2 linked regions of the Homo sapiens genome follow. Changing the gene in region 2 together with the main gene of any one other region gives a genetic interaction. Each region holds a gene or a part of one and is shown on either strand. Other genes may lie near its edges.

Region 1 (3,689 bases), on a different chromosome or scaffold from region 2:
AATTGAAATTCTCCAAACCAAAAATCTAAACATAGAATACCTTACATTAGCCTAATTTGCTGGGTTCTACAAGCTGATCCGGAACAAATGAACAAGTGGAAAGAATTTTTTACACTGGGTTTTCCAGAAGTTGGAATGTTTCTTCTTATAAGTAAAATCAAGTTTACTTATCCAAAATATAAAGTTATTGAGGAATTATTAGAATGTTAACATTATTGATGACCAAAGTAAATATACATCAACACACTTTTCAAAGACAGTTTCTATTTAGAACCCATGATAAAATTTGATAATTGCTCACATGAGAAAAAACAACCAACAATATACAGAAAACAAACGAATATTTAAAAAATATAGGCTGCCAGGTGCAGTGGCATGCACCTGTAGTCCTAGCTATTTGGGAGCCTGAGGCAGGAGGACTGACAGAGCCCAGGAGTTCAAGTTCTGCCTAGGCAACATAGTGAGACCCCATCTCTTAAAAAGCAACGTCATCAACGGCAATAACAACATTCATTCTCTTGGGTTCAACACCTGTGAAAAGATATATATATAGAGACTATCTTACCAGTCTTGAGGCATAAGTTTAAGGGGCTGGTCTACTACTCTATAAGGTACTGTAACACTAATTGCAGTGCCCCCTGGTTGCATCTGGTCTTTTCTTCTTTGTATTAGAGTTTCATTTTCTCGTTGACAACCTTGTTTCTTCTTTTCATCTGATGGGACAAATCTTTGAAAAAACAGAGATGAGAAAAAGTCAATGTATTCCACGTGATGAAAATGGGAAGATAAACTATAATTTGAAATATTTTTTTTTTTTGAGACAGAGTTTTTTCTTATTGCCCAGGCTAGAGTGCAGTGGTGCAATCTTGGCTCACTGCAACCTCCACCTTCTGGTTTCAAGCGATTCTCCTGCCTCAGCCTCCCAAGTTGCTGAGATTACAGGTGACCGCCACCACGCCCAGCTAATTTTTTTGTATTTTTAGTAGAGATGGGGTTTCACCACGTTGGTCAGGCTGGTCTCGAACTGCTGACCTTGTGATCCACCCGCCTCGGCCTCCCAAAGTGCTGAGATTACAGGCATGAGCCACCACGCCCGGTCTGAAATAATTTTTAAACATTAATTAGTTTTAAACTAAAGATGTTTGTTTTTAAATAAACCTGCTCTGCAAGTACAGATCATGGAGTGTATAGGTCTTTCCTCTGTATACCAAATAGAACTCAAGCTCACTCAGACCCTAAGTTGGGTGTGTGTGTGTGTGTGTATGTGTGTGTAACACCACACAATTTATATTCATTCAACTAGCACTTAGCATTTTCCACACTAATACTTAATTTCTCAAATTCTATTAGAGGAAAACTTCATGATAAAGAGGAATTTTATTAGAAATCAAAAGGTCATTTGAAATGAAAAAGTTGTTGTGGCTAGTAGGCTTCTTTACGACTTAGCCTATCCAGGAGCTTCATAAAACTTTTTTTTTTTTAAGATTTTATGCTTCAGCAAAATTACAAAAATACCATCAAACTTCAGAGTAGCCTTGAAAATTTTAAAGTATGAAAATTAAATCAGTGCATGCTGATAACCTGCTATTATTATCAACTAGTGGCATTTATCAACTTACTTATGTGGATCCATTCTCAAGACAGATATTCTTAAAAATAACTTAGCAATCTGGATAGCTATTACCACCTGTAAAATTTGCTAGTGTTCACAAAGTATTTTAAAAGTCTTATTTTCTAAATATATACATAATCCTAACAGTCCAATAACATATTTTATTAACTATGATCTAGTCTCTCCAATAAAATGGAGGGAATACAATCAATATATTGAGAGTATCATTCTGCTTCTAAAGTTTAAAAGAGATGAAAGGGTGAAAGGACCAAAAAGCACAGGAGAACTTGCACTAATTAGAGTTCTCTGAAAAACTTCAATTACACATATTGGATTCATCACATAATACTAATTTTATTGTCTAGAAAGTTTTTAGTTCATGGTGATAATGATGATACTGAACTTTGCTTCTGAGCTGATTGTTCTCACATCCATTTTACATTTGGTTAAAAAGTTAAGATTTCTATATCATTTAAAAATTTCCCCCAGATAATCATTTGCTTCCTATGGCATTTGGTTTATTTATTAATCAAGCTCACTTAGAAAATGCCAGACAGTACTAATACTTTGAATAATGAAACACATTATTTAGAAAATTTAATATGTGTGCATTGTTTGAAATTGCATTCTAATAAAAAGCCACAACAAAAATGTTTTAATAGTATGTGCAATACATTGTGCTATAAGTTTTATAATATACATAGTTGTACAAAACATAGTCCCTGCCCTCTTGAACTTATGTTCCACACACACAGAACAAAGGGATTCTACTGCCAAGAGAAATGCTTTGTTTTATCTCAGTCTATAACTACATGGGATTTAAACTGTTTTAAGTTGTTAAATATAAGACTGCATCTCCCTCTTTTCTGGCTTCTGAAATTTTAACATGGTGTTAAAGTTTAAATTTACTTGTACAAAATTACTTATAAACTTATAAACAAAATTACTTATAATCATATGACTAGAATGCAAAATACATACAAATGAGTGATCTATTACAATACCAAACTAATAAAAAGTCTATTATACACCTATTTCAACTTTTGCAGGTCTACACATTGGTTGATATGTTTTATAAAAGCTCAGAAACATTAACGTGGTTTTTACAATTAACCACCGTCCTAGAATTTTTAGATGCTGTAGCATGTTAATTTCTGATTATATCTACGTATTTTCTTAGAATTAGTCATCTCTATTAGCAATAAAAAAGGCTTTATTTCAAAACGCTTTTCAGCAAGGATCTCATTTGAAAACATAAGGATAGATCTTATGACCTCTTCCCTAAAGTTAAGTCTACTAAAAAGATTAGTATTCCACAGAGTCAATATAATTTTACCTGTTCACCCTACTGCAGTTCATCAAATCTAAGACACAATGATTGTGAGCTACACCATTATATTGTACCACTATGAAAGGAAAAAACTACTGCCAATTAAACTATGATATTCTACATAAATCACAGTCATCATCCCTCCAGAAAACTGGTTATTTCTTCTGGCTTGGGCTGCACTGCTGGGTGTGTGATAGGCAATTGTTTCATATGTATCTCAGGCAAAATAGGTTCATCTACTATTGCTATCTTCCATTTTTAGGTTCCATAAAGCTCCTGGTTGTTGCTTTGCAAAAAAAAAAAAAAAAAAAAAAAAAAAATACGGGATTAGGGCGAGGTGCAGTGGCTTATGCCTGTAATCCCAGCACTTTGGGGGGCCAAGGTGGGTGGATCATTTGAGGTCAGGGGTTCGAGACGTCTGGCCAACATGGTGAAATCCCGTCTCTACTAAATATACAAAAATTGGCTAGGTGTGGTGGCGTGCGCTTGTAATCCCAGCTACTCTGGAAGCTGAGGCAGGAAAATCACTTGATCTCAGAAGGCAGAGGTTGCAGCAAGCCGAGATCACACCACTGCCCTCCAGCCTGGGGGACAGAGTGAGACTCTGCCTCAGGAGAAAAAAAAAAAAAAAAAAGAATGGGAATGTCATTCCTCTAATGCGGAAGAATTCAAACATCAAATCTGCACTCCACTGCTTCATTTTAGTGTATTTTTGAATATACAACATTTTTATTGACATAAAATTTA
Region 2 (3,689 bases):
CCATGTCTACTTTATTTGCTAATTCTGGTTGTTCAGTAAGTTTTAAGGCATCATCTAGACTTCTGGAAAGAAAATGAGCTCCTTGTGGAGGTTCCCTAAGGTTAAAAAAAGAATTCCACAAAATGTTTGTAAAATCCATCCATACTAGTCAAATAATCTGACTAAGATGCAGTGACTATAGAACTAAAATCATCATAAATATGAATCCTTTCAACAAAAAGCACTTAACATCAGTATGGCCTCTGACCAATAATTTAACCTATATTTGTACATCTGTGGTTCACAATGAATCATAAAACCATGTGATATCTTGTGATATCTCTGGTGGAAAAACATCAGAATAGTAGTTATTTCTGGAGGGGTGGGATAAAGATTAACTTGGACAGGGCAGGAGAGAACTTTCTGGGGGTGATAGGTAATATTCTGTATCTTTGATAGGGCTGGGGTTACACAGGTGTATACATTTATCAAAACTTAGCAAATGTACATTTAAGACGTGTGTCTCATGTAATATTTACTTCAGAAAAAAACTGTAAAGAAAGACTGAATCATTTTATTTATTTATTTATTTATGAATGAGACGGAGTCTTGCTCTGTAGCCCAGGCTGGAGTACAGTGGCGCGATCTCAGCTCACTGCAAGCTCCGCCTCCCAGGTTCATGCCATTCTCCTGCCTTAGCTTCCTGAGTAGCTGGGACTACAGGTGCCTGCCACCACGCCCGGCTAATTTTTTGTATTTTTAGAAGAGACGTGGTTTCACCGTGTTAGCCATGATGGTCTCAATCTCCTAACCTGCTGATCTGCCCGCCTTGGCCTCCCAGAGTTCTGGGATTACAGGCGTGAGCCACCGCACCCGGCCAAGACTGAATCATTAATGGTATGAATGATGAAGTATTTAGGTGGAAATATACTAATGTCTGCAGTTTATTATGAAATGCAAAAATGAACAAGACCAATTGATGGATGAAATGTGATGAAACTAGTAGAGTAAAATGTTAATGGTAGATCTAGGTGGTGAGTTTACTGTAAAGTTCTTTCTGTATGTGTGAAGATTTTCCTAATATTAGAAAAAGAGTGATATGTTTGAATGACTGCAGAAAAGCTTGGAATGACATTCAGACTGTTAATATGTTGTTACCTTTGGGAATGGGGAAAGGATTTATGTTTCAAACAATACAGGAATGGGTGAAGTATTAAAAAATGAGCTTATTATTACTTATGTAATTAAAATCCAAAAGGGAAGAAGTTAATTAATTTCAGTGTTTACTCAGGGGTGGTCCAATATTTTGGCTTCTCTTGGCCACATTGGAAGAAGAATTGTCTTGGGCCACACATACAATACACAAACATTAACAATAGCTGATGAGCTTTAAAAAAAAAAAGATCTGTGCATGTTTTAAGGAAATTTACTAATTTGTGTTGGGCAGCATTCAAAGCCATCCTGGGCCACACTGAGGCCTGCGGGCCATGGGCTGGACAAGCTTGGTTTACATTGACTAGCTTAGTCCCTCCCAATCTCTGAAACTACTTTGTTGGTCGTGGTGGGGGTTGCAATTCCCTTTATAAATGATGAAACAGGTAGAACTAGGCTTTCATAGTAATTAGATACACAACAGAAATTACAATTCCATGTCAAGTTTTTAGCCTGGTGCTTTAACAAGATTATATAATTGCCCTTGAACTCATAGTTATAATAAGGATTAATCAAGAATAGGGACTATTCATTCTCTTGATTGCCTCCTCCCTCTCCCTCCTCATATAAATTTTACTTATTTTACTCTGTCATTCTTAAAAGAATTAGGTTAGAGCAAAGAATATACTTTGACTCAGGCTGGAAAAAGACATGGTGGCCAGAGAGAAGTTAAATAAGCCCAGGTATCTCCTAAGGTATCAGGGCAGTTACAGGGACCAGGTTGGATTAGGCTCTTCAGGGAGAGAACTCAATCTAGAAGAAACAAAGATTTGGAGTTGGGAGAGAAGAGAGTTTAGTTAATAAACAGATGATGGCCAAAACAGAGCCGTGACGGTGTTAGTAAGTGCAGCTGTGAAGACTTCCTTGCCCTTTTTTGTAGTGAGTATAGAAAAGAAAGTGAAGAACAGATTAGCCAGGTGTGGTGGCTCACGCCTGTAATCCCAGCACTTTGGGAGGCTGAGATGGGCGGATCACGGGAGGTCAGGAGTTCCAGACCAGCCTGGCCAACAAAGTGAAACCCCGTCTCTATTAAAAATAGAAAAATTAGCTGGGTGTGGTGGCACGTGCCTGTAATCTCAGGTACTTGGGAGGCTCAGACAGGAGAATCGCTTGAATCCAGGAGACAGAGTTTGCAGTGAGCTGAGATTGTGCCACTGCACTCCAGCCTGGGCGAGACAGCGAGACTCTGTCTCAAAAAAAACCAACTCCACTCCCCCCTTCCCCCCAAAAAACCCATATTAAATATAGTGCAAAGTTAGAGATTTAAGTTAGAGCAAAGGTATGAAGAATATGCTTCCGTAAAATGTGGCTATTTAGCAGTTTAGAGGTAAGTATCACAGGAAACACTGGACCTCTAGGTGGGTAAAAAAGAGCATGCAAAAAGCTGAGCTACGGTTTGAGTTCATCAGCCCTTACATGGCACAAGCGCTAGAAATACAGTAAATGACAAATAGCAAGCATCCAATATAGTCACATATTTCACTGCTGAATTTCTTTCCTATAATTATTTTAAACCAATCTAGATTGGATTCCCTGACAAAGGAGAGTTGGTATGTAGTAGCATATGTATTCTTTGTTAAGAAATGTGTGGACATTTCTTTGTGATTGAGTCTTGAAGGTTTGCATGAAGACTAAATGAGATAATGTACACACTGCATTTAACTGGCAATTGTACGTGGTACTATCATTCCTTTTTATAGATGAGGAAACTGAGGCTGAATGGTTAAGAAACTACTGGTCACACAGCCGGGAAATGATGGACCTCCGAGTTGAACTCCAACAGATTTGACTTTGAAACTTGAGCTGCAATTTGTTACATGGACAAAAGACTTCAGTTGGTGCCTGTGGCAGGGTCCTCCGATTCAGGGGCCCTTAAACATCAGGATGGTGGGGCTTAGATTAGGCAGAACCCTCTGACTCTTGTCTTCTGGCCTTATCTGATTATCTCGGGTGCCATATAAACATTATCCTTTTTCACTGTTCCTGATGTGAGGACTGCCGATGGAATTCTTGCTCAATTTCCCTGAGGAGTGTTGGGAAACCACTTAAAAACAAAAAACCCTGAAATGGAATAGTGTCTTAACCAGAACGCAAAAATACATCTTCAATTTAAGACCCTTCATACTGAGCCTTTAAAAATGGGGTTCCCTACTAAGCCATACCTCATTTTACTGTGCTTCACAGATATAAAGGTGTTTTTCTTTTTTACAAATTGAAGGTTTGTGCCAACCCTGCACTGAGCAGGTCTACTGGTGAAGTTTTTCCAACAGCATGTGTTCACTTTCTATCTCTGTTACCTTTTGGTAATTTCCACAATATTTCAGGCTTTTTCATTATTAAAATACGTTTTGGGGATCTTGCTGTTACTGTTGCAAGTAACTGTTATGGGGTGCCATAAATCATGCCCTTTTAAGATGGTGAATCGATACATGTTATGTGTTCTGACAGCTCCACTAACTGGCTATTCCTGTTTCTCTCCCCCTCTTCTGGCCTCCCAA

The links. A genetic interaction does not mean that the proteins touch.
Region 1: changes in DHFR (region 2) and CDC73 are lethal when combined (synthetic lethality), as found in Homo sapiens cells (one large-scale study listed by BioGRID).

Annotation. Positions count from the first base shown.
Region 1 is NC_000001.11:193,230,031-193,233,719, reverse strand, and holds part of CDC73 (parafibromin), read right to left. Parts: intron 728-3,689; coding exon 566-727; intron 1-565.
Region 2 is NC_000005.10:80,637,915-80,641,603, forward strand, and holds part of DHFR (dihydrofolate reductase), read right to left. Parts: intron 96-3,689; coding exon 1-95.